Linked DNA regions of Homo sapiens. The protein of the gene in region 2 interacts with the protein of the main gene of each other region in a pairwise test. Each region holds a gene or a part of one and is shown on either strand. Other genes may lie near its edges.

The links.
Region 1: the proteins of UPF1 (region 2) and GSPT1 interact in binary tests that used the Homo sapiens proteins (3 or more experiments, as listed by UniProt).
Region 3: the proteins of UPF1 (region 2) and STAU1 interact in binary tests that used the Homo sapiens proteins (3 or more experiments, as listed by UniProt).
Region 4: the proteins of UPF1 (region 2) and UPF3A interact in binary tests that used the Homo sapiens proteins (3 or more experiments, as listed by UniProt).

What each region holds. Positions count from the first base shown.
Region 1 is NC_000016.10:11,905,939-11,912,966, forward strand, and holds part of GSPT1 (eukaryotic peptide chain release factor GTP-binding subunit ERF3A), read right to left. Parts: intron 1-7,028. UniProt on the Homo sapiens protein: GTPase component of the eRF1-eRF3-GTP ternary complex, a ternary complex that mediates translation termination in response to the termination codons UAA, UAG and UGA.
Region 2 is NC_000019.10:18,862,940-18,868,739, reverse strand, and holds the end of UPF1 (regulator of nonsense transcripts 1), read right to left. Parts: intron 5,303-5,800; coding exon 5,128-5,302; intron 4,571-5,127; coding exon 4,489-4,570; intron 3,452-4,488; coding exon 3,290-3,451; intron 3,180-3,289; coding exon 2,962-3,179; intron 2,697-2,961; coding exon 2,577-2,696; 3' UTR 2,574-2,576; intron 2,220-2,573; 3' UTR 510-2,219; downstream 1-509. Other genes in the region: GDF1 (embryonic growth/differentiation factor 1 precursor), read left to right, coding at 1-143. UniProt on the Homo sapiens protein: RNA-dependent helicase required for nonsense-mediated decay (NMD) of aberrant mRNAs containing premature stop codons and modulates the expression level of normal mRNAs.
Region 3 is NC_000020.11:49,178,307-49,185,334, forward strand, and holds part of STAU1 (double-stranded RNA-binding protein Staufen homolog 1), read right to left. Parts: intron 939-7,028; exon of another isoform or gene 1-938. UniProt on the Homo sapiens protein: Binds double-stranded RNA (regardless of the sequence) and tubulin.
Region 4 is NC_000013.11:114,291,593-114,298,620, reverse strand, and holds part of UPF3A (regulator of nonsense transcripts 3A), read right to left. Parts: intron 7,021-7,028; coding exon of another isoform or gene 6,988-7,020; coding exon 6,829-6,987; intron 6,823-6,828; exon of another isoform or gene 6,037-6,822; intron 5,951-6,036; exon of another isoform or gene 4,900-5,950; intron 3,271-4,899; coding exon of another isoform or gene 3,169-3,270; exon of another isoform or gene 2,513-3,168; intron 1-2,512. UniProt on the Homo sapiens protein: Involved in nonsense-mediated decay (NMD) of mRNAs containing premature stop codons by associating with the nuclear exon junction complex (EJC) and serving as link between the EJC core and NMD machinery.

The DNA.
Region 1 (7,028 bases), on a different chromosome or scaffold from region 2:
ACTTTTTTCTCTACTTCAGTAGTCTCAACAAGTTGGCATGATGTATTGTATAGAATAAATACACAATCAATTTTTACTGAATTACTGTGTTTTCCTTTGATTTTCACACTGGTTCCTTCCAGTCACATCACTTCATTTTTTCACTTTTCTTTTTTCTTTTTGAAATGGAGTCTCACTCTGTCGCCCAGGCTGGAGTGCAGTGGCACAATCTGGGCTCACTGCAACCTCCACCTCCTGGGTTCAGGCATGAGCCACCACAACTGGCCTCACTTCCCTTTTCTGACCAGGACCCCTAGCCTCCATCTGTACATTCATTGCATTTCCATTAGGGCTCAAGAGAGTGAAAACAATTTTAAATGTGCCAACTTTCTAAGAAGGGGTTAGGGAAACACTACACTCAGGAGATGTTGGGCCAGCTGTGGTGGTTCCCGCCTATAAACCCAGCACTTTGGGAGGCCAAGCTAAGAGGGTTGCTTGAGGCCAAGAGTTCAAGACCAGCCAGGGCAACACAGTGATGCTCTGTCTCTACAAAAAAAAATGTAAAAATGAGCCAGGCGTGGAGGCATACAACTGTAGTCCCAGCTATTTAGGAGGCTGAGGCAGAAGAATCACTTAAGCCCAGGAGGTTGAGGCCACAGTGAGCTATGATTGTGCCAATGAACTCCAGCCTGGGCAACAATGTGAGACCCTGTCTCAAAAAACAAAATTAAAGAAAGAAAATTTTAAATTAACTATGTGGTTCATACTATATTCCCATTGGATTATGCCAGGGTGGTAACGATAAAAAAGCAAGATTCATTTAACTCAGAAAGAAAATTAGGCTAAGATAATAAATCCAGCAGCCAACAAGTCTTAATAATAGGCACTTATCTGGTAAGATCACATGAGACAATATTTCTTGAATTTTTTTAATGTAAATCCCTCCAACAACAAAGAACGATCCCATCTCTGAACAAAAATTTGCAAGCTGAGGTTTTTCTTTTTTTCTCCTGTAGACAATACTGAAAAACAGTAAAAGCAAACACCAGAAAGAAGTCTACAGAACACATAAAACAATGTGGATGGTTTTGCCTTAATTACCTAACACTCTAAAAATAAAAAGGCTCGGTACAGACAGTGGTGAACAGAGCTGTTTTAAAGTATTTTACATCAACACTTGCTAAAATGTAAAAAGAAGTAATTTCAAAATATTGCTTTAAATCAGAGCACTGCCTACTTATGACAAATGTCATTCTGCTACTACTGAGACAGAACACAGAGAAATGCCATGGTCCAAGCTCACAGGTCCAGTTTCTGGAGAGTCTCAGTCTACTTTAATACAAAATCACAAGGAAAGCACTAGCAGTCACTACTAGAATAAACTTTGAAATGACCTCGATTCCAAGCCTCACTCCTCTCATGGATATGACTGACCTAAGTTATTTAGCTTTACTGAGCCTTTATTTTCTCATCTGTAAAATGGGTCAACAGTACCTAACCTCAAGAGAATGTTGTGAAGACTAAATAACTGATAAGGGGTGGTAAATGCTCAATAAATTTATTACAGCAAGCACTTCAAAGCCCCAAAATAATTTCAAAAACCTTTAAGAATGAAACATTAGGCAAATGCCAGGGCCACTCTCAGAAAACTACACGCTAGTTGTAGTAATTAGCTCCAGGCATGCCCTTCCCGCCCCCTGTTATTAAACAGCATGATGTGGCAGATCAAGCACTAAACTAGCAGGTAGCAAATCTGCATTCTAGACTCAATGGTGTCATTAACTCTGTGAGTGACCTTAGGCATTTACTTAGCATTTCTAAGGCTCCAGTTCCTTTATCTGAAAATGAAGAGGCTGTACAACTGCTAGGGTCGTATCCAGCGCTAACATTCTAAGAACCTCTTTATTCGGACACAAAAGCAATGCCACATTATCAACCTGATCAGACTTTGCATAGAGTAACTAAAATTCCATTATGTTTTTCAAACAACCCTGAAAGACAGTCTTATGAGCTACAACCTAACTACTTCAAAAACAATTTGAGGCCAGGCGCGGTGGCTCACACATGTAATCCCAGCACTTTGGGAGGCTGAAGTGGGCAGATCACTTGAGGTCAGGAGTGCGAGACCAGCCTGGCCAGCATGGCAAAGCCCCGTCTCTACTAAAAATACAAAAATTAGCTGGGGATGGTGGTGCACACGTGTAATCCCAGCTACCTGGGAGGCTGAGGCAGGAGAATCGCTTGAACCAGGAAGGCAGAGGTTGCAGTGAGCCAAGATCGTGCCAGTGCACTCCAGCCTGGGCGACATAGAGAGATTCATCTCAAAAACAAAAAAGAAACAAAAAACCATTTAAATAACATTTAAAATACACAAACCAAAACCATTTCAGATACCCTCAAAAAAGTACAAAAATAACAGAAACAGCCGGGTGCGGTGGCTCACACCTGTAATCCCAGCACTTTGGGAGGCCGAGGTGGGTGGCTCACTTGAGGTCAGTAGCCACCAAGACCATCCTGGCCAACATGGTGAAACCCTGTCTCTACTAAAAATACAAAAATTAGGCCGGGCGCGGTGGCTCACGCCTGTAATCCCAGCACTTTGGGAGGCCGAGGCGGGCGGATCACGAGGTCAGGAGATCGAGACCATCCCGGCTAAAACGGTGAAACCCCGTCTCTACTAAAAATACAAAAAATTAGCCGGGCGTAGTGGCGGGCGCCTGTAGTCCCAGCTACTTGGGAGACTGAGGCGGGAGAATGGCGTGAACCCGGGAGGCGGAGCTTGCAGTGAGCCGAGATCCCGCCACTGCACTCCAGCCTGGGCGACAGAGCGAGACTCCGTCTCAAAAAAAAAAAAAAAAAAAAAAAAAAAAAAAAATACAAAAATTAGCCAGGCATGGCGGTGCGCACCTGTCATCCCAGCTACTCAGGAGACTGAGGCAGGAGAATCGCTTGAACCCGGGAGGTGGAGGTTGCAGTGAGCCGAGATCACGCCATTGCACTGCAGCCGGGGCAACAAAGGGAGACTCCATGTCAAAAATAAAAAAATAACCGAAACATTTTTCTGCTACCAAAATTAACCACCTAAAGGCAATGGACAAGTAGTATGGTAACATACTGGAGTTCTACAGAAATATTCAACCAGGAAATTACCCAGTGACATTCTGCAGAATGCGCTTTTTTTTTTTCAAGTGAAGCGACATACAATTACCTAGTGGGAATGTGGTTTGGAAGTGAGTGTCACCACTGTTAGGTCAGGTGCTCGGGAAAGCCTTATTAAGTGTTCTTCTCTCTTTGAAAGTAGAATTATGATGGGAAACTGGTTCAACTTAGAGTACTGTAACAACTAGGTTTCCTTAGAACAAAGCCATTTACGAAGGAGCCATATAAATCTACAGTCTCGGCTCACTTTGTTAAACTCTACTGAAAACAAGGCAGAAACTTCTAAGCCTTGAAATGAATCAACAATCAACAGCTAAAAACTGTCAGTTTTCTTGATTGTTCTGAGGACCTCAGATCCTTCAACTAGTAGCCAAATTCTTGTCTCCCGAAGATATTTTAAAACCAAGGGTAGAATGATGAAATTCTAAACATGCCCCAATAGACACACTAGCCAGACTCATAGTAACTGAACTCACTGCTGTTTAATACGAAATAGACAAGTACTGTAAAAAGATAACCAGTGCTCTACCTTCAGCACTCTCGACAAACTTAAAAATACAAAACTTGGCCAGGCACAGTGGCTCTCGCCTGTAATCCCAGCATTTTGGGAGGCCGAGACGGGTGGATCACTTGAGGTCAAGAGTTCGAGACCAGCCTGGGCAACATGGTGAAACCTCATCTCTACTAAAAATACAAAAATTAGCTGGGCGTGGTGGCGGGCACCTGTAATCTCAGCTACTTGGGAAGCTGAGGCAGAACAATCGCTTGAACCTGGGGAGGCAGAGGTTACGGTGAGCCGAGTTAGGGCCACTGCACTCCAGCCTGTGACAGAGCGAAACTCCATCTCAAAAAACAAAAACAAACAAAAAAACTTAGCCAGGCGTCATGGTGGGTGCCTATAGTCCTAGCTACTCAGGAAGCTGAGGTGAAAGATCACTTGAGCCCAGGGATTTGAAGTTACGATGAGCTATAATCACACAATTATACTCCAGCTTGGGTGACAAAGTAAGATCCCGTCTCTAAAAAATAATAAGTAAAAAGTTTTTTAAAATACACACAACCTTGGTGATCAGGCTTTGGCTGCAACTCTGGCCCAGGAGGCCAGAAAAAAAAATACACACAAGGCATTCGCAAAGAACAGTGAGCAGATAATAGATAAATCTTTAGTTTTATGAGAGTGACAAGACTGAGAGGTTTTACGTAAGGGATTGCTGTTCTCGGCTTTGAAAGCCTTCTCTACACTCTCTGCAGGGCTCACTTACCACACTGTGACTTCCACTAGAGTACACTGGGCATCTGATCCCTTTCTAGATTCCTTCAGGACCACAATTTATTCATCTTGGTGTTATTTCAAGTGCCTAGCATAGCATCTTTCATTCAGTGGACTGGTAAATGTTTGTTAATGAGTCGCTAGTACATATATCTGAGCAAAACCAGAAATTCGCATTTCTGGAAAAAAATTCCATTCCAATACTGCTAACTCAACCCAGAAGGTTATCAAATCTCTTTTTCATTCCTTTCTCTTCAACCAGAAAGAAAATACTATCTGAACACTTTCAGACATTTCTTCCCCAGCAAACCAAAGCAAGCAAATCAAGGCTTAAACTTTGTCGTCTACATTACTTCCTTAACTTGTTCAAACTGAAATTGCTGTCTTTTCACGCTGTGCAACTTCAGAAAAGGTAAAAAATAAAGAACAGAAGAATGCAATAAGATATGTACTGACAGCACTACGTAATACCTGCTCCAAAGAGGGTTTTTACACCAGTCAAAAATTCTAACAGTTTAAACAACTGCTCAACTTGGCACAGCACAGCCCTAGATGATGCCTTCGCTTCTTCCCTAAATCCTCAGTCTCAAGCCATTCATACGTGTAAAACCATGAAACAAGAGACAAAAAGGTCAGCCATGGCAGGAGAAGTAACGAAAGGCAGTGTTTACTACTGTGATACTCCAGGGATACTGTGGGGCCTCTCCTCTACCCCATCTGCTGTCCCACTGAAGCCTAAAAACACCTTTATATGAGCACTGTTCTTGCAGGCACTTCAGTCTCAAAAACACATTCTCAAATACAGAATCTTACCTATTATCTACCTCAACAGATAGAATTTAACATATTAATAAAGTGTAAGGGCCTTTCTGGATTAAACAACCATTACTTTGATTTGGAATCCTCTCTACTCTGGTGGCCCTGAAGAGGTCACTTCTGAGATGTTCCAGCTTAAAACTGAGAATATTCTAAAAAGCATCTGCCAAGTGGTGATGGTTGCATAACCTTACAAATATATTAAAAGCCACTGAACTGTATGTACACTTTACTTTTCTTTTTGGACAGTGTCTCATTTGGTCACCCAGGCTGAGTGCAATGGTGCCATCATAGCTCACTGCAGCCTCCAGCTCCTGGGCTCAAGAGATCCTCCCACCTCAACCTCCCAAGTAGCTGGGACTACAGGTTTGTGCCACCACACCCAGCTATTTTTTTTTTTTTTTTTTTTTGAGACAGAGTGTCAATGTCGCCCAGGCTAGAGTGCAGTGGTGTGATCTCGGCTCACTGCAACCTCCGCCTCCCAGATTCAAGTGATTCTCCTGCCTCAGCCTCCCCAGTAGCTGGGACTACGGGCGCGCACCACCATGCCTGGCTAATTTTTATATTTTTAATAGAGACAGGTTTCGCCACGTTGGCCAGGCTGGTCTCGAACTCCTGACCTCAGGTGATCCGTCCACCTCGGCCTCCCAAAGTGCTGGGATTACAGGCATGAGCCACTGCACCCAGCTGTATTTTTTTTTTTTTTTTTTTTTTTTTTTTTGTGGAGACAGGGTCTCAGTCTCACTATGTTTTATGGAGGCCTCAGGCAATCCTCTCACCTCAGCCTCCCAGAGTGTTGGGTTTATAAGTGTGAGCCAATGCGCCCAGCTTGTACAGTTGAAAAGGGTGAATTTTACAGTGTGTAAGTTAAATGTCAATCATTTAAAAAAAAAAAAAAAAAAGGCCAGGCGCGGTCACACCTGTAATCCCGGCACTTTGGGAGGCCAAGGCGGGCAGATCACCTGAGGTCAAGAGTTCAAGACCAGCCTAGCCAACATGGTGAAACCCCATCCCTGCAAAAACACACACACACAAAATAGCTGGGCATGATGGCAGGTGCCTGTAATCCCAGCTACTCGGGAGGCTGAGGCAGGAGAATTGCTTGAACCTGGGAGGAGGAGGTTGTAGTCAGCCGAGATCGTGCCATTGCACTCCAGCCTGGGCAACAGAGCAAGACTCCGTCTCAAAAAAAAAAAAAAACAAAAAAAAAACCTCCTCTTCCAATAAATAAGGCATTCAGCAAATACGGAACACTACAAAACAGAATGTTTCTCTTTAAAATTCAAGTTCCACAATACAATCTGCTAAGTTTTGGAGACAGTGCCTCCTCCAAGTAAGTACTGAGGGCTGCTGGTTTTATTCCATGCTTGTTTCTTAATGGCAGTGAGTTCTGAGAAGCATTAAAGGTGGGATGATGCAAAGAACACCACATCATTACTTTAGAAGCTCTGGCTGTTCTAAAAAGTTCAAGTAACCCTAAAATTACTAAACCAGTTTCTTATCTAACAATAAAAAAAACTAGGTGCAAATTGCAACTTAAATACATCCTATCAGATAAAATGCTTGTTCTAATATACATTAAGCCTTGTCTTCTATATTTTTATTCACTTGGGGACCTCACTTTTTAAGGAGAATCTCTTGGCCAATTTACTTGGCTCTAGAGAACTGTGCTTAAATGAATTACACTTAATTACACTTAAATGGGTTCCACTTAATTATTTCTTAAGGAACCTATATTCTTTAGTTTTCAAAGAGATCCAAGGTCAATACTGAATCCCAAGGTCTGACTCTCCAGGCTCCTTCA
Region 2 (5,800 bases):
CGGCCGCCCCGGGAGCCGCCGACCTGCCCTGCTGCGTGCCCGCGCGCCTGTCGCCCATCTCCGTGCTCTTCTTTGACAACAGCGACAACGTGGTGCTGCGGCAGTATGAGGACATGGTGGTGGACGAGTGCGGCTGCCGCTAACCCGGGGCGGGCAGGGACGCGGGCCCAACAATAAATGCCGCGTGGTCTGCTCCGCTGGTCTCCTTGGACTCCTTGCCTGGGTGGTGGGGAGGGCGCCCCTCAGTCTTGGTGATCGGATAGGCCTTTCCACCTCCAGGCCACCTGCCAGAGGCCTAACGCGCCACTCCGGGGAGCCGCCCGGACAGGCCCAGGTGCTGCCTACGGGAAGGGCCCAGGGGCAGGGGTCGCCCTTCAGTCCTGCAAGGCAGACCTGTCCCTTCTGGGCTTTGCCTGTCTCCCTCTGGCCTCCTTCACACCCCAACCCGTCACTCAGCCAAGGCAAAACCCCAGCACCCTCCACCCCCTGCAGTTTATCCAACCTTGGTGTGAAGTCAAAACTGTTTATTAATATTTGGTGACAAAAGAACTTAAATTGACCGAAAATCAAAAGTTACATTGCCTTGGTACAGTGCGCCTGGGTTTGTCAAGGCTGCTGCTACAAAGCTGGAGAACACAGCACAGGGCGAAGCAGAGGCAAAGCGGCCCAGCCCAACAGCCGGGATGGGGCAGGGAGCGTCCCTCAGGCCGCCGCGGGGTCACCGCGGAAACCTACCCGGTGCATGCCTCTACGCGGCCTACCGGAAGAAGGGGAAACCGAAAGCCCTAGAGCAATGGGAATAAATAAGAGTCCCTGCCAGAAGGAAGGTGGCCTGTGCGTCCCCGTCTGTCCCATGTAGAAGCCGGAATCTGGAGGTGTTCGGATCAGGGCCAGTGACAGCCCCAGGCCCGGGGCAGGGGAAGCTGGAGGCCTGGCCGCCAGGCAGAATGACACCCCAAGCCAGGCGTTCGAGGGGCTGGGGCAGCTCTCCTAAAATGACCCTCTGCCAATGACACCACACCCTCAGTCCCTTCACACAGAACGCGGTAATTTCTGTAACTTGTTTCCTTACCCCCCAGAAGCAGCAATCACCCCATCAGCAAAGTTGCCGGCAGGCAGAGCTCCCAATTTGGGCTTTCGGTGTGCAGCGCTCCGTGTCTAACCAGCACAGGGACTGTCGGTACCTCCTGGGGACGGGGACAGGGACAGGCCCTCTTGTCCTTCCACCAAATCTTCCAAAGGCCCCCGGGAAAAAGCCGTCAATCCGGGAACAGCCACCTTCTCGCCTCCTGGCCACAGGGCCAGTCCTGGCCAAGGCCCCTCGCAATGGGGCCAAAAGCACCTTCCTCACCGGTGCGGGGCCCTGCGCCGAGTCTAGGCGGGAAGCAGCTTGGCTTCTGAGTCCAGCGGAGAACGAGCAGCTTCCAGGCTCGGCGGGCGGCTACCCCAGCAGCCTGATGCCCCGCAGAAAGAAGCCACTGGAAGCTAAAACCAACAACAAAACTCCTCCGGCCGCGGCACAGGTGTTGCTCCTCTTCTCCAGTAGCGCTGGCTTGTTTAAACTGTTTCTGGAAGCTTCTCAAATCTCCCAGGTCCACCGCTAAGATTTTACAGACAAACTTAGGAAAGTATTCTTCAGTACTCCTTTAAAAGAATCTTGAAAAAAACAAAGAGAAAAACCCAAAACACCCTTATTTTCTTTAAATGAAGGCCCTCGGAGAACACAGGCAGCGCGACCTCGGCGCGTCCGGTAGGCGTGGACAGACGCGCCCTCCCGGGGCTCTGCCCCGCACGCTGCTGTCTTTGCAAGGAGCCTGCTCGGGCACAGAAATGCGAAGTTTTTTTTCCTGCTAAGACGTAGTCCCCTTTCAATCAAAGAGAAAAAGAAATAAAAGAACAGAGGAAAGGGCTACTCTGAGATGAGGGTCTTCCTCCCTCCGCCCTGGCCGCAGCCCCGATGGGACGGAGCGGGGCCTCCTGGTGGCCGCGGCTCCCGCGGGCCGGCCCCTCCTCCGCTCCCTCTGCTCCTCGCCGCCGCGGGCCAGCAGGGGGCGCTCGGCCTCGGCTCCTCTCCCTCGTGCGCTCTCCCTTCCTGTTGCTCACACAGTGGTGCTTCAGTTTTAGCAGTGGAAAACAGGTATCCGTTTATTTTTATTTTTTATTACCCAGAATAAGATGCTGATGGACTAAGCCACGTTGCTTAGCTCTTCCGCCGCCACCTGTCAGGAGGGAGAAGGGCAGGAGGCGGTGAGAGGCTGCGACCTGAGCCCCACAGGTACCCAGCACACAGGACAGTGAGGGAGAGCCCGAGCTGCCCTCCCCGACTCTGATGAGGAAACTGAGGTCCCGCGGTGGTCCCCGGAGCAGACAGGATGGGGTAGGGTGGGGTGAGGAGCCACCCTGACTAGCAGTGAAGGGCACAGGCCAAGCTGGCCCTGAGGGCCTATGACCCCCACCAGGCACAGCACACATTTCCAGATACCACCCCTCCAGTGCAGCTCCCTGGGGAGAGCCCCCTCCCATCCTTCTCCTTGAGGCTGGGGTGGGGCCAGGCCTGCTCCAGGGGGGCTTGCCTTTTAATACTGGGACAGCCCCGTCACCCCGCCATGCTGGTAAGCCCGCTCTCCCTGGTACGTGGAGTCCTGTGAGAGCGCCACGTCGATTTGTGATTTAAACTCGTCACCAAGGTAACTGTCCTGAAAGACAAGGTCAGGAGGTAAGCAAGCCACAGGCCAAGGGTGCTCACATCCACCCAGCCCTCAGCAGCCCCAGAGAAAAGAATGGAAAACCCGTCCCCAAACTAAGACCCAGGAGACCCACTCTGATGACCCCAGCCCAGGGACAGGTAATTCAGACAGTGGACATGGGCCAGGCCAGCTCTCTGGGGCTCTTCAGAGGGAATGTTTCAGGTGCATAGCCCCACCCTCACTCAGGTAAGTCCCGTCCCAGGGGCGGGCTCACCTGGGACAGCTCCGGCTGGGAGAGGCCGGGCTGGCTCATCTGGGAAGGCTGGCTCATGGAGATGTAGCCCTGCGTCAGGGCGCCCTGAGAGAAGGGCTGTGACGCCACATCCTGGCTGGCTTGGCTGTTGGGGAGGTTAGTCTGGCTGGGTCCAGGAAGCCCAAAGCGGTTCTTCTGGCGTCCCCCACGACCAGTCTTGCCTTTCGGGGTGCCTCGCCCTGAAAGACAGCAGTCCAGGGTGATCCGAAGGAGGCCAGGGCCTCGCAGACAAGCACACCCTCAAGAGCTCTCAGGAGGGCCACACCCAGCCGCAGCCACAGATGCTCACCTGCAGCAGGCCCGTTGGCTTGTCCAAAATAGCCAGGCGGTGGCATGGGTGGCATGACCAGGTTGAAGGGGATGGGAATGTTCATGGCAGCCACGTGGCTAGGGCCGGCACTGATCATGCCAATCTGGTCATGGGTCTGGAAGTACATGCTGGAAGGCCGGCCTGCAAATCACAGTGGAACACGGCAGGTGTCACCTGCCTCGGTCAAACCCCAGCGATACCCCACCCACCCCACCAGCCAGTCAGCCGGAGCTGCACATCTGTCCTGGCTCTGCCCAGGCTGAAGATGCGGATTCGCAGGACTCCATGTTAACTACAGCAGCCTGCCTGGGGCTGGGTGCTTGGGCAGGCACCTTCCCCGAGGAGAGTCTGCTGGGAATCATTGGCCTACACAGATCTTAAAAACTGAAAATTGGGGCCGGGCGTGTTGGCTCAAGCCTATAATCCCAGCACTCTGGGAAGCCGAGGTGGACCACCTGAGATCAGGAGTTTGAGACCAGCCAGGCCAACATGGCGAAACCTCGTTTCTACTAAAAACACAAAAACTAGCCGGGCATGGTGGTGGGTGCTTGTAATCCCAGCTACTCGGGAGGCCAAGGCAGGAGAATCGCTTGAACCCAGAGGGGGAGGTTGCAGTGAGCCAAGATCACACCACTGTACTCCAGCTTGGGCAACAGAGCGAGACTCGGTCTCCAAAAAAAAAAAAAAAAAAAAAAACACCTGCAAATTGGCCAGGTGCAGTGACTCACGCCTGTAATCCCAGCACTTTGGGAGGCTGAGCAGAAGGACTGCTTGAGGCAGGAGTTTGAGACCAGCCTGGACAACATAGGGAGACCCTGTCTCTAAACAAAAAAAAGAAAATAAATGAAAATCACCCTGCATTTACCAAAGGAAAAAAAAAATCCTTTTTATGAAAATGTTCTATTTGTACTACATGCAGTCCCTGCCCTACCAAAAGGCAAGAAAAAGCTAACTAGCTTGATCACCAGGAAACACAAATGAATAAACTCTGGTTAAAGACAAACACCCCAGGAGTGTTCCGGGGCTAGAGATGCCCTAGGGGCGGGGAGGCCAAGGGAGCCAGGCACCGCCCTTGAGGGGAAGGAAAGATGGGGGCACCTAAAGCTGCAGCCATGGGAACGGCCAGCATCCCGGTGTGAGGACAAGGGGTCGGCCAGGTCCCCTGCTGAGCGACTCACCCTGGCTGCTCCGATCATAGACGGAGCCTGGGATGATGGCCTCCCGGGCATCATACATGGCTGTGGTCATGAAGCGGGCTCCCTGCGAAGGTTTAGATAGGTGAGGAATTTGTCATCTCAACAGAAGGAACAACTTCCCACGGGCCCGGTGGCCTGGGAGGTGGCAGGTATGCAGCTGTGAGGTGTTGACACTGTGCCAGGGGCTCTCCCTGGAGACAGGAGGGAGCTGCTGTCTCATGGCCTCTGGGTCTCGCCTGCCCTCCTCGGCAGACCTGGGCTCTGATGCTGACCCTTGGGCCTCAGCTCAGGAAGCTTCACACCCCCTCACTACCAGATCACCCCGGGCTTGCAAAGCTTCCAACTGCCCGTGTCCAAGGTCCCAGGCTGCTGCATGCAGCACAGCAGCCCTGAGCCCAATTCCCAGAGGCCACCCAGGACTTAGCGGCCCCAAGCCAAAAATGCCACACACGGCTCGGGAGACAAGAAGTGGGCTGGCCCACCCTCCCCTAGGAGAGCCCACCCTCCCCTAGGAGAGCCCTCCCTCAGCTCACGGGCACACGGGCCAAGCTGGCACGTTCCCAGCAGTGTTTTGGGCCCGGGTTTCTCCGTGCTGCCCTGCTGTCCTGTGCAGGCGCTCACCGGGTTGATAGTGTTGACCAGCTTCCGTGGCTTGCTGAACTGCATGAGGCTCTCACGCAGGTTGTTGAGCGGCCCCTCCACCAGCACCTTCTGCTCCTTATAGTAGTTCAGCAGGTGGTTCCAGAGCGGCTGCTTTGATAGTGCCTTCGGGTTGCCCACAATGATGACGCCATACCTGCAACAAGGGCGCAGTGCTGAGGACGCAGGTGGAGAGCTGCCCGTCTCACAGGACGGTCCAAGAGGCAAGGCTGCATTCACTCAGAACCCAAATCCAAGGCAACAGAGGCGTGGACCGGGCAGCAGGCAGGCTGCCAGCCACAGGGACAGGCCCCAAAGCCCAATGCCAAGCCACTGACCCTGCACACGGGTTGATTTTGTGGCCGACTCTAAGCAGCCCCATGGCAGACACCTGGCTGGGTGGATACGTTTGGAGAGAAGACCTGCTGTCAAGAGAGTCGGCCTTCCAGGCACCGGGGCACACGCGGCCCCACAGGGCCCCCAGCAGGCCGGGGCACTGACCCGATGCCCAGCTCCTCTAGCCCACCTCACGAAGCTGTGGGGGGACCCACCCAATACTGCCCACCAAACAAGAGGGCGCCTTAGAAAGAGGGAGTAACCAATGACAAAGCCATGGTGACCTAGAGGAGAACCACCGCGCATATGAGCCGGAAGG
Region 3 (7,028 bases), on a different chromosome or scaffold from region 2:
TTTCCCCAGTCAAGAATGCATACTAAACCAGGCACCGTGGCTCAGGCCTGTAATCCCAGCACTTTGGGAGGCCAAGGTGGGCCAATCACCTGAAGTCAGGAGTTTGAGGCTAGGCTGGCCAACATGGTGAAATCCCATCTCTACTAAAAATACAAAAATTAGGCCGGCGCAGTGACTCACACCTGTAATCCCAACACTTTGGGAGGCCAAGGCAGGTGGATCACCTGAGATCAGGAGTTCAAGATCAGCCTGGCTAACATGGTGAAACACTGTCTCTACTAAAAATAAAAAAAAATTAGTCTGGCATGGTGGCACATGCCTGTAATCCCAGCTACTTGGGAGGCTGAGGCTGAACAATCACTTGAACCCGGGAGGCAGAGGTTGCAGTGAACTGAGATTGGGTCACTGCACTCCAGCCTGAGTAACAGAGCGAGACTCTGCTTCAAAAATAAAATAAAATAAAAATATAAAAATTAGCCAGGCATGGCCGGGCGCGGTGGCTCACGCCTGTAATCCCAGCACTTTGGGAGGCCAAGGCGAGTGGATCACAAGGTCAGGAGATCAAAATCATCCTGGCTAACACGGTGAAACACCGTCTCCACTAAAAAAAAAAAAAAAAAAACAACTAGCTGGGCATGGTGGCGGGCACCTGTAGTCCCAGCTACTCCAGAGGCTGAGGCAGGACAATGGCGTGAACCCGGGAGGCAGAGCTTGCAGTGAGTCAAGATCGCGCCACTGCACTCCAGCCTGGGCGATAGAGCAAGACTCCATCTAAAAAAAAAAAAAAAAAATTAGCCAGGCATGGTGGTACGCACCTGTAATCTCAGCTTATCGGGAGGCTGAAGTGGGAAAATCGCTTGAACCTGGGAGGTGGAGGTTGCAGTGAGCCGAGATCACGCCACTGCACTCCAGCCTGGGCGACAAGAGCAAAACTCCACCTCAAAAAAAAAAAAAAGAAGATAAAAAGTAGCAAATTATAGAAAGTCCCTTATGCAAAAGAAAGCTTATTTCACTTTTATTCTTTTTTATGTTTGGTGCTTGAATAAATTCTCAACTAAAAGGAAAATTACTATACAGAAGTAGTCACTTGCTAAACATTACAGGTTGCAAAGGTTTACTCAATGACAAACCAAAAGGAAACTTATTTGCCTAACTATATTTGACTGTCATCTAGGTAAAGGGTCATGGAGCTTTCATGAGCAGGTTGGTTCAATTGTGCAACAAGGAAAATAAGCTTCCAAGCATAATGAGACTTATTATTACATATAAATTGTTCTTTCTGACAGAGGAAAGGACTGCCTAGCATTCTGCATAAAATCACAATGGCTTCAGCAGACAATGGCCCTATTTGAATCAGGGTGGAATCTGCAAGGGTAGAAAATTCATGCCTCAGTTAATTGTAATCTATAGAAGGCATGGATTTCAAAACAGCAAAGATAGGAGAGAATCAGACAAGATCTAGTTAGATCCTAAAGCTCATCTCTGAAGGGAGCTAATATAGTGACAATGTAAGCAGCATTATCTGCTCACTTCATGCCAAGGGGTATTTCCAACACCTATTAGTGATTAATGAGACATGCTATGTCATTACAGACTACAGGGTAGCCTCAGTTGAGGTTAAACACAAAATGGAACTTCAGACACCATTTCACTAAAAGCTCACATCCAAAGGCAGATTTAATTTCACTGATCCAGCCTTTCAAGACTAACCATAAGAGAAGACTGCCCAGGTGGAATACCAAAGAAGCTTCTGATTCAGATCACCGTTTCAAACAAAAGTAAAACAAAATTGTTCAGGAAGCAGTTCAATTCCAAACAGGAAGCTGTACTAAATACTCCCAACAGTATTAGCCACAAGAGGGATGTTAGAAAGGGCTAGGAAGCAAAGAGGACAACCAGCACCTATCCTATAAAGTTAATTGGAAGCTTAGTTAACTCATTTCCACTAAAGCAGAATGTTAGAATTCAGAAGAAATGAATTTTTTTTTTTAGCAACAACCTGGACTACAGTTCTTTTTTTTTTTTTCCCCCCCTGGATACAGAGTCTTGCTCTGTTGCCCAGGCTGAAGTGCAGCGGCACGATGTCAGGTCACTGCAAACTCCACCTCCCGGGTTCAAGCCATTCTCCTGCCTCAGCCCCCGGGGTAGCTGGGATTACAGGCACGTACCACCACACCCAGCTAATTTTTGTATTTTTAGTAGAGATGGGGTTTCACCATGTTGGCCAGGCTGGTCTCGAACTCCTGACCTCAGGTGATGCGCCTGCCTTGGCCTCCCAAAGTGACGGAATTACAGGCGTGGGCCACCATGCCAGCAATTTTTAACAAACCTGATGACACACGATAGCAGTAATTTAGGAGCTGGCCTCCTTTAACACAAAGGTTAATAAGACAGCCCCTCCCCACACACAAACCTGTGGATCAGCTTTAAGTTTTAGCTTAATTTGACATAACAAATAAAAGTAAACTGGAAAGCTATTTCAAGGGTCCATCTAAAAGACTATTACTTAACCAGACTTTCTTTCAAATTGATCTAGGGTTCTAATGAGCAAAATTCATCCTAGCTGCTGCGGTGGGGAGAGTCAGGGGAGGGCCACCAGTGACAAGCAGAATCAATTATCCTAAACAAAAAGCACCTAAGCATAATTTAGAGACAAAGCATGGTTCAGTGGAAAGAACACTGACTTTGGAGCCAGACCAGCCTGTGCTCTAGAACTAATACTTGGTGCCTCAGGACTCTGAGCCAGTTATCTGGCCCCTCGGAAGCGCATCAGCATCCTCAGCAATTATTATGAGCTTTACGCTGCAAAGATGTTTATGAGTATTAGAAATACAACATAAAGGGTCTAAGAAACCCTTTTCTTTGGTTCAAGGAAAGAGCTAAATGAACTGCAACTTTTATATTATTAGGTAAATTCAACCTGACCTTTTAATTCCTTTTCTGCATAAAATAACTTTCACCCTGTAATTCTAACCTGGCACATGGTAAGAGCTCAATAGCAGTAAATATTATTATCCAGCAAATTCACTAAACCTGTCCTTACACATAAACATCTATAAAACTTACAGCAACACTCCACTTGTAAAAAATTTTAAATAGGATCAGAGAATATGCTGACTAAAACCAACCCACTCACTGAGCAACCAGTTCTGTAGCTACATCAAGTATAGGGGCAAGGCCGGGAACAGTGGCTCAAGCCTGTAATCCTATCACTTTGCGAGGCTAAGGCAGGCGGATTGCCTGAGCTCAGGAGTTCGAGACCAGCCTAGGCAACATGGCAAAACCCCATCTCTGCTAAAAATACAAAAAATTAGCCGGGCGTGGTGGTGCTCAATTGTAGTCTCAGCTACTCGGGAGGCTAAGGCAGGAGAATTGCTTGAACCCAGGAGGTGGAGGTTGCAGTGAGCCGAGATGATACCTCTGCATTCCAGCCTGGGCAACAGAGCAAGACTATCTCAACAAAAAAAAAAAAAAAAAAAAAAAAAAAAAAAGCAGAGGCAATCTAATGAAGGTTTAACCCTCAGCAATCATGTTCATTCAGGGGAAAAGACCCCAATGTATTTAAATAGATTTTCTTAGCCTTTATTGTCTGGGAGACATGACACAAAATTTCTATCATAATAAAATGGCCAGTTTTGCTTCCATTACTGTTATAAACCCACATAGTCATCACACTTCTTTCCCAAATTAGATTCCAGATTAAACAGATGCCAGATGGGTTACAGATTTGATATTCAGAAGACTAATTTTTAATCGAAAGCAAACACTTTCTCAAATAGATTTTTCCACTTTTGCTTCCAGTAAATATACTTTGAGGGAGTTCCCTGAGTCTACTTCTTTAACAAATAAACATATGTAATCCCAGAAAATATACAGCAATTAACAGCCTGCAGAAATTTTTCTCTACTTCCATTTATCTGGTGACATAAATCACTGTTACATCAACCTTATTCACCAGTATGGGAATGTAAACACTTAAAAAACAAATTAAGCTATTTGCAGTAATTCCCATTTTACCACTTTAAAAATATTACTTTTCTCTGCAGTAAGGTTTTCTAGTTCAGAGCATTAAGCTGTCAACAAGACAGATATCCAAGCCCATCCATCCCGTGGCATTTGATAAGATCAACACAGCTATATATTTATAATCCTATTATCTCCTTAGCAGGTGAGAACAATGGATTTGGCCAACATTATTCAAGCTTCATAATACTGTATGGTAAAATGTTCATGACAAAGAGCAGAAGGTATGCCGGGCACAGTGGCTCACGCCTGTAATCCCAGCACTTCGGGAGGCCGAGGTGGGCGGATCACAAGGTCAGGAGATCGAGACCATTCTAGCTAACACGGTGAAACCCCATCTCTACTAAAAACACAAAAAAATTAGCCAGGCATGGTGGCGGGCACCTGTAGTCCCAGCTACTCGAGAGGCTGAGGCAGGAGAATGGCATGAACCCAGGAGGTGGAGCTTGCAGTGAGCCGAGATCACACCACTGCACTCCAGCCTGGGTAACAGAGCCAGACTCCGTCTCAAAAAAAAAAAAAAAAATAGTAGACGGTGTTCAGCACCATGAAACAGGGAGGCAAAAATAGAAAGTAGATGGTATCTAAAGAGATGTACAATAAAACTTCATAAACTTTGTTATATGTTTGAAATTTTTCATAATAAAATGGTGGGGGTAAATAACCATAGCAACTAACATGTCCTCTCATAGTTCAACTGATAACTGGCAATTTATATTTTTTGGAACAGCACAAATGGTATACAGCCTTGACTCTGGTGAAGTTTTATTTAAAGAAAAGCTCATGTAGAAAATTACACGAGAAGCATTTCAACCACAAATGTCTCCATCACCAGAAGTCAATGTAAAATAACCTGTTATAGGTCTAGTGTGAAACAAATCTGTCATAAAATTCTCTAAACATTTTTGAAAGCTCTAAAATCCCATTCTGAGAGAAAAGCAACTCCAAAGCTCTTATTTGAGAGGGGAGGAATTTATATTTCCTCAAATTGAACAATTCTGTGTCACTGGGTATCACATCAAATAAGAAGATCCAATTTAGAGGCTCATGAAAACAAGGCCTCTGCCTATAATCCCAGCTACTAAGGAGGCTGAGGTGGGAAGATGACTTGAGCTCAGGAGTTCAAGACCAGCCTGGGCGACAAACTCTGGGATTGACTTGTGGAATCCCACAAAAAGATACCCTTTTCATGAAAGTTTCATCTTTATACTGAATTACACTCTTACTCAATCCAGTAAAAAGGCTCAAAGAAAGTTGCCCCACAAACTGAGACTACCTTGTGGTATTGGGGAGAGAGACTGGATGAAGCAGTATCCATTTTGATAACACCCAGAATGATATCAATGATCTGGACTTTAGAATGGGGATGGAGGAGAGTTCCATGAGTCATGGCCATTTCTAAACTTAAAATACAGTAAATCCTCTCTTAACATAAGGGGTAGGTTCTTGGAAACTGAGACTTCCGACTAACACACGCTTATTGATACAAACAAGAGTTAGGTTCTAGGGCATATTTCTCATCAGAAAAATATCACCAAACTTTTAAATAAAGACCAAACACTTCGAATATTAAACACTGAAATAAATGTGAAGTATACATGCCTTTTTTTTTTTTTTGAGAAGTACTTTTGCTCTTGTTGCCCCGGCTGGAGTGCAATGGCACGATAACCGCTCACTGCAACCTCTGCTTCCCAGGTTCAAGCAACTCTCCTGCCTCAGCCTCCTGAGTAGCTGGGATTACAGGTGCCCGCCACCCAGCCCGGCTAATTTTTTTTATTTTTAGTAGAGACAGGGTTTCGCCATGCTGGCCAGGCTGGTCTCCAACTCCTGACCTCAGGTGATCTGCCCACCTCAGCCTCCAAAAGTGCTGGGATTACAGGCATGGGGTTGCAGTAAGCCGAGACTGCACCATTGCACTGCAGCCTGGGTGACAAGAGCTAAACTCCATCTCAAAAAAAAAAATTTTTTTTTTTACCACTTATTCCAGTTCAGGGTTGGGGTGGCTGGAGCCTATCTCAGCAGCTTAGGGTGCAAGGCCGGAACCAGTCCTGGACAGGACATCCACTGCAGAAAGCACTCACACTTACACACACAGCTCCACACACCAGTGAACCTCACGTGCACAGCTTTGGGATGTGGGAGGAAATCAAGAGTACCCAGAGAAAACCCATGCAGGGATAGGGAGAACGTGTAAACTCCACAGACAGTTTTTTTTCTCAACATTATCTTGAAACAACATTATTCAAGGACCTGCTGTAATCTGTATATACATGGACTTTCTGGCTGAAACCTAAAAGAGAGCAACTTATTCTCAAGAAACTATATTTATGGTAACAATTCTCAATGCTTAAAAGTTTTACGTTAAGCTTAATGGGAAGCACTACACATTTTTAAAAATGTGTTGTGTCCTTTCCCAGATACTAAATTGGCGTTTCTTTCCTAAATCAATTTTAAGAGGTGTATCTTTCCCCATCTTCCAGGTAGTCATAACTAAAACATAACATGTAACATTTCCACTGTACCTGATCAAGCTCAAAGTACACCTACAAAACTCAAATAACAGACCTAAAAGCTGAAAACTATTCACGACCAGAAATTTGAAAGTTATGCAACAAAGACATTTATAATATTTATAATATTCCTGTCAACTTCCATTGTAAGAGAGATCCTTTAGACACAAGAAAGAAAAACGTGAACACTTATGCTGTGATTTCATACTATTCACAAAAATTAAGGTTTCATTCATATTTGCTAAATTTGTTATTTGGAAATAGGGCAGACGGGGGCACTTTGGAAAACAATTCTATGTTAGAAGATTATCTTTTGCTTAATTCTTAACCTAAGGTAACAGCAGTATCTTTACACAACTACTGTAAAGAAACATTTTAAGTTTTCATTATGAATTATTAACTGTAGTTTAACTTTGACACAAAGTTATCTCTATTAAAGTGGGTTAAAAGGCAGGTCTCTGCCAAAACAGGACTGGGGAAATCTGTATTTGTTCG
Region 4 (7,028 bases), on a different chromosome or scaffold from region 2:
TGATGCAAAGATGTTCACGTAATGAATAAAGGGCTAAAAAACAGAACATGCACCACAATCTCACTTACACTTTTCTCTTTTGAGACAGAGTCTCGCTCTGTCGCCCAGGCTGAAGTGCCGTGGCGCACTCCCGGCTCACTGCAGCCTCCGCCTCCAAGGTTCAAGTGATTCTCCTGCCTCCACCTCCTGAGTAGCTGGGACGACAGGCATGCGCCACCATACCCGTCTAATTTTTTTTTTTTTTTTTGAGATGGAGTTTCACTCTTGTTGCCCAGGCTGGAGTGCAATGGCACGATCTTGGCTCACTGCAACCTCCTCCTCCCGGGTTCAAGTGATTCTCCTGTCTCAGCCTCCCAAGTAGCTGGGATTACAGGCGCCCACCACCACGCTCAGCTAATTTTTTGTATTTTTAGTAGAGACGGGGTTTCAGTATGTCGGCCAGGCTGATCTCAAACCCCTGACCTCAGGCAATCCACCCACCCTGGCCTCCCAAAGTGCTGGGATTATGGGCGTGAGCCACCGTGCCCAGCCCCCACTTCTATTTATGTTCACACACACACCACCACCTAAAGGGCTCTGCAGCACTGTATTAATAGTGATTATTTCCTTTTTTGAGATGGAGTCTCGCTCTGTCGTCCAGGTTGGAGTGCAGTGGTGCAGTCTCGGCTCACTGCAACCTCCGTCTCCTGGGTTCAAGCGACTCTACTGCCTCAGCCTCCTGAATAGCCAGGACTACAGGGGCGTGCCACCACACCTGGCTAACTTTTGTAGTTTTTGTTTGTTGTTTTTTTTGAGACGACGTCTCACTCTGTCACCCAGGCTGGGGTGCAGTGGCTTGATCTCAGCTAACTGCAACCTCTGCCACCCTGGTTCAAGCAATTCTCCTGCCTCAGCCTCTCAAGTAGCTGGGATTACAGGCTCCTGCCACCGTGCCTGGCTAATTTTTGTATTTTTAGTAGAGATGGGATTTCATCATGTTGGCCAGGCTGGTCTTGAACTCCTGACCTGTGATCCCCCAGCGTTGGCCTCCCAAAGTGCTGGGATTACAGGCATGAGCCACCATGCCCGGCCAATAGTGATTATTTCTAGATGGCAGAACTGAAATGACTTTATTTCCTTTCATCTATAGGGTCTAGTTTTCCTGACATAGACAAGTATTAGTTTTGTAATAAGGAAAAAAAAATTTTTAAAAGGCTGCTTCCTACTGATGATTTTTAGAATAGTTTATAGTTTTCAAAACACTGATTATTCTCTTTCCTGAAACAGAATTAATGAACAAGTCGCCACGACATATTTCATCTGCCCTGTATGCCCCTGGCCTTTCTCCCTGCTCTCTGTATAGTTTTTGAAACTAAAGCACCTCAGCTAACTTGAGAAAAGGGAGAAAAAAAAAAAAAACGGAAGCACCACAGACAGATCATTTGTAGAACAGAAATGGAAGGTGTACATCTGAGAATTCTGTTCTCACTCATAATTGCAGCATAGCAAGACCATACACAGATGCATTCAATCACACGTGTTCACTTGGGAACACAACGCATCATGCAAGGTGGAGCATTGGAAGCCGCTTCTCATCAAGCGTGGGCCCCATGTCAGCTGTGAACATCCTCTTATTCTGCCTATGTGGAATCTGGGAACTTAAACATTTCCTTTCTGGTAACTGCCCATCTTTTATAAAAATTGCAACAGTAACATGTCTGTAATAAATGTGAACCATAGGAAGTGCAAATCTCCATCCACCCATTCAACAAATATTCTGTGTGCCTAGGAACTGTTCTTACATTTCTGACACTGCACGTCTTTTTCAATACCACCCCTCCGACACCAGCTGCGTGCTCCACATTCAACTCAACTCTGAGATCATCGACCTGGAGTTAGCACCAGAACCCACGGGTCAAGGGCTCAGTCCCACAAGACTGCCCCCCTTTCAGACGACAGTTCCAAGTCCCAGTGTGTCACCGGTACTTCTGACCAGTCAGCAATAAATTCAGGGGTTCCCGATGGCCTCTCCTCAGATTTGGTAAGTTGCTGAAATGGCTCACAGAACTCAGAAAGGCACTGTTTTCTCGATTATTGGCTAATCATAAAGGATACAACCCAGAACAGCCAAACGGAAAAAATGCACAAGGTGGGTATGGGGTATGGTGTAGTGGTACTTGGAGCTTCCATGCAGTAACCCTCCCAGCACCTTGATGTGCTCACCAACCCGGAAGGCCCGTCTATTTTTTTTATTTTTTTTGAGATGGAGTCTTGCTCTGTCACCCAAGCTAGACTGCAGTGACGCGATCTCGGCTCACTGTACCTTCGCCTCCTGGGTTCAAGCGATTCTTCTGCCTCAGCCTCCTGAGTAACTGGGACTACAGGCATGCGCCACCATGCCTGGCTAATTTTTGTATTTTTAGTAGAGACGGGGTTTCACCATATTAGCCAGGCTGGTCTCAAACTCCTGACCTCGGGATCCACCTGCCTTGGCCCCCCAAAGAGCTGGGATTACAGGCGTGAGCCACTGTGCCTGGCCCCTGGAAGCCCTGTCTTTAGGCATTATTAAGGTTTCATTATGTAGGTGTGACTGATTAAGTCACTGGCCACCGGTGACCTCTCTCTAGGCCCTCTGCCCTCTCGGAGGCTAGGGTGGGACTGAAAGTCCCAACCCTCTAGTCCTGCCTTGGCTTTCTGGCCAACTAGTCCCCATCCTGAAGCTGCCTGGGGCCCCCAGCCCCTAGTCCTCTCATTGGCATATAAGACACTCATATTACTGCAGATTCCCGAGGTCTGAGGAGCTGTGTGCAGGAACCAGGGCCTAAGACCCTGTGCTAGGCACTAGGGAATGGCTGTGAATGAGACAAGAGGTGCCCCTGCCTCGAAGGAACTTGCGCCTGATGCACCACCTGAGGCAACGGTGGTCAAGGGGGAATGCTGTGAACAGTGGCAAAAATATGAAAAAGGAAACAAAGGAATAAGATAACCTCAGGTAGCATCAAAAGCTACGAACAGACATGAAGGGAGAGTAAAGCATCAGAGACGCAGGAAGAGGAGGGCCCAGGAGGGCTCTCTGCAGAGCCAAGACGGGAACTAAGACCAGATGCCAAGAAGGAGCCACGGGCACATCTGGGGAAGTCCCTGTGGAGGGAAACGTGCGGAGTCCTGAGGTGGAATCCGCTGGTGCATTCATGAGAAACCAGCAGGCCAGAGCCGCTGGAGACGAGCTGGGGAGCACGCCAGAGCCGCTGGAGACGAGCTGGGGAGCACGCCAGAGCCGCTGGAGACGAGCTGGGGAGCAGGCCAGAGCTGCTGGAGACGAGCTGGGGAGCAGGCCAGCTCTGCCACGCCCTGCAAGGCTTCCGGAGGCCAAGCGGAGCGCATGGGCAGCTGTGCTCCCTCCCAGCCCTCGCCTGTGTGTGTTCACCCATGTGGCCACACATAAGCTCACTGCTTAGCATCCTCAGAGGAACATTAAACAGCTGAGCTGTTCTGTGTGCCGTATTTCTTTTCTTTTTTTTTTTTTTTTTGAGACGGAGTCTTGCTCTGTCGCCCAGGCTGGAGTGCAGTGGCGCAATCTTGGCTCACTGCAAGCTCCGCCTCCCGGGTTCATGCCATTCTCCTGCCTCAGCCTTCCAAGTAGCTGGGACTACAGGCTCCCGCCACCACGCCCAGCTAATTTTTTGTATTTTTAGTAGAGATAGGGTTTCACCGTGTTAGCCAGGATGGTCTCGATCTCCTGACCTAATGATCCGCCCACCTCGGCCTCCCAAAGTGCCAGGATTACAGGTGTGAGCCACCGCGGTCCAGCCTTTTTGAGACGGAGTCTCGCTCTGTCGCCCAGGCTGGAGTGCAGTGGCGTGATCTCAGCTCACTGCAACCTCTGCCTCCCAGGTTCAAGCGATTCTCCTGCCTCAGCCTCCTGAGTAGCTGGGACTACAGGCGTGTGCCACCACGCCCAGCTATTTTTTTGTATTTTTAGTAGACATGGGGTTTCACTGTGTTAGCCAGGATGGTCTCGATCTCCTGACCTCGTGATACGCCCGCCTCGGCCTCCCAAACCATATTTCTCTTTATTAAGAATAGCCATGAGTGCTACGCACGGTGGCTCATGCCTCTAACCCCAGCAGTGGGAGGATCACTTCAGCCCAGGAGTTCAAGACCAGCCTGGACAACATAGTGAGACCCCCACTTCTACAAATTTTTTTTTAAATTAGCTATTCAGGTATGATGTTGCACCCCTGTAATGGGAGGCTGAGGCGGGAGGATCACTTGAGCCTGGGAGGTAGAGGCTGCAGTGAGCTGTGACTGTGCCACTACACTCCAGCCTGGGTGACACATTGAGACCCTGTCTCAAACCCCCCCCCCACCAAAACCAAACAAAAAAATAGCAAAATAGCCATGAGCCATCTGTCTTTCTTTAAGCTGTTGATACACCTTCTTTTGCATTTCTCCACAGATTCCATTTTTCAGGCATTAAAAGAATTTCAATTTTCCACATGATTTAGAAGTGAAAGACCCCCATACTGAGCACAGATACTTATTAAAAGCTAAACCAGGCCAGGCATGGTGGCTCACGCCTGTAATCCCCAAACTTTGGGAGGGTGAGGCAGGAAGATCACTTGAGTCCAAGAGTACGAGACCAGCCTGGGCAATATAGTGGGAACCCCATCTCTACAAAAAACAGAAACAGGGTCTCTCTCTGTTGCCCAGGCTGGTCTTGACCTCCTGGGCTAGAGCAATCCACCTGCCCTGGTCTCCCAAAGTCCTGAGATTATAGGAATGAGCCATCATACCCAGCCAACTTTTCTGTTTTTGACTGCTGACCATATCAGAAACAAATCTATGGTTCAATGATCTCTTCCCCACCCTTTCCTAAGCTATCTTCTTTCCCCAAGTCCTGACATTTCATTTTTTTCCTCATATTGTACAATATTATTGAATATAAGGTATTCAATAAATAATAAGTAATGAGTGATACCTTAGGTTCAAATCTAGGTTTAGTACTGAGGAGATAATGGCTGGTCCCAATTCTGGCCAACACATTTCACACAGAGAAAAATTCCCTCTATGTATTAAACCACCCTCATAAATGAATGTATCAGTCACAGAAAAAACTCAGCAAGAAATACAGAAACTCATTAGTGCTACTGCCAAAGAAATGATAAAACCCGGTTCTGAGTCAGCCTTCACACAGAAAGGCAAAACCAGTGGTTTTCAAATGTGTATTTTTTAATCAGGGAAACTTTTTTTTTTTTAAGACAGAGTCTTGCTCTGTTGCCCAGGCTGGAGTGCAGTGGCGCGATCCCGGCTCGCTGCAACCTCCGCCTCCTGGGTTCAAGTGATTCTCCTGCCTCAGCCTCCTGAGTAGCTGGGATTCCAGGCACACGCCACCACGTCCGGCTCATTTTTGTGTTTTTAGTAGAGATGGGGTTTCCCCATATTGGCCAAGCTGGTCTCAAACTCCTGAACTCAAGTAATCCGCCTGCCTCGGTCTCCCAAAGTGCTGAGATTATAGGTGTCAGCCACCCCACCCGGCCAGGAAATTTTTTTTTTTTTTTTTTTTTTTTGAGAGGGAGTCTTGCTCTGTCGCCCAGGCTGGAGTGCAATGGCGCGATCTCGGCTCACTGCAACCTCTGCTCCCTGGGTTCAAGCGATTCTCCTGCCTCAGCCTCCTGAGTAGCTGGGATTAAGGCGTCCGCCACCACACCTGGCTAATTTTTGTATTTTTAGTAGAGACAGGGTTTCACCATGTTAGTCAGGGTGATCTCGAACTCCTGACCTCGTGATCTGCCCGCCTCAGCCTCCCAAAGTGCTGGGAGGAAAACTTTTTTTTAAAGGAAAATGTAGAGGGTGGAGAATGGGAGGAGGGTGAAGACTGAAAAACATCAGGTACTGTGCTGATTACCTGGGCAACAAAATTATCTGCACACCAAACCCCAGTGACACTTGATTTACCCATGTGACACACCTGCACGTGTACGCCTTGAGCCGAAAATGAACACGTAACACACCTGCACGTGTACGCCTTGAACCGAAAATGAACACGTAACACACCTGCACGTGTACGCCTTGAGCCGAAAATGAACACGTAACACACCTGCACGTGTACGCCTTGAACCGAAAATAAACATGTGGCACACCTGCACGTGTACGCCTTGAGCCGAAAATGAACACGTAACACACCTGCACGTGTACGCCTTGAACCGAAAATGAACATGTGGCACACCTGCACGTGTAAGCCTTGAGCCGAAAATGAACACGTAACACACCTGCACGTGTACGCCTTGAGCCGAAAATGAACATGTGACACATCTGCACGTGTACGCCTTGAGTCGAAAATGAACACGTAACACACCTGCACGTGTACGCCTTGAGCTGAAAATGAACATGTGACACATCTGCACGTGTACGCCTTGAGTCGAAAATGAACACGTAACACACCTGCACGTGTACGCGTTGAGCTGACAATGAACATGTAACACACCTGCACATGTACGCCTTGAGCCGAAAATGAAAGTTGGAAAGTTTAAAAAAAAAAAAAAAAAAAAGAGCGTCAGCAGCAGCCCAACGTGTGCCAGCGTGGGGCTCCTGTGGGGTGTGCTCCCCACTGCACACCCAGGAGGACAGGCACCCAACAGCAGCCTGAGGACTCCCAGGGCTCAGGACGCACTGTGATAACCACTGCTGTAGGATGGAAAGAAAGATGGAAAAGATGGAAAAAAATAACAACACAATATTAGATTAATTCAGAATGTTTTCAAAATTCTAAAGAACTAAGATATGTAAAAAGTGTAATTACTATAGCAGAGCTATTTTTGGAAAAAGGAAATGTTTCCTCAGAATTACCTTAATCCTTACTTCTTTCTCTGCAATTTTCTTCTGTTTATCTGTCTCTTTTTTTTTGCATCTTTCTTCTTCTCTTCTTCTTCTTTTTTCCTCTTCCCGCAAACGTTTCTTTTCTAACTCTCTCCTCCTCCGTTCTTCTCGCTTCTCTTCTCGAATTCTCTAAAGACATGGAAGAGCGTGTGTATAAACTGCCTGGATGA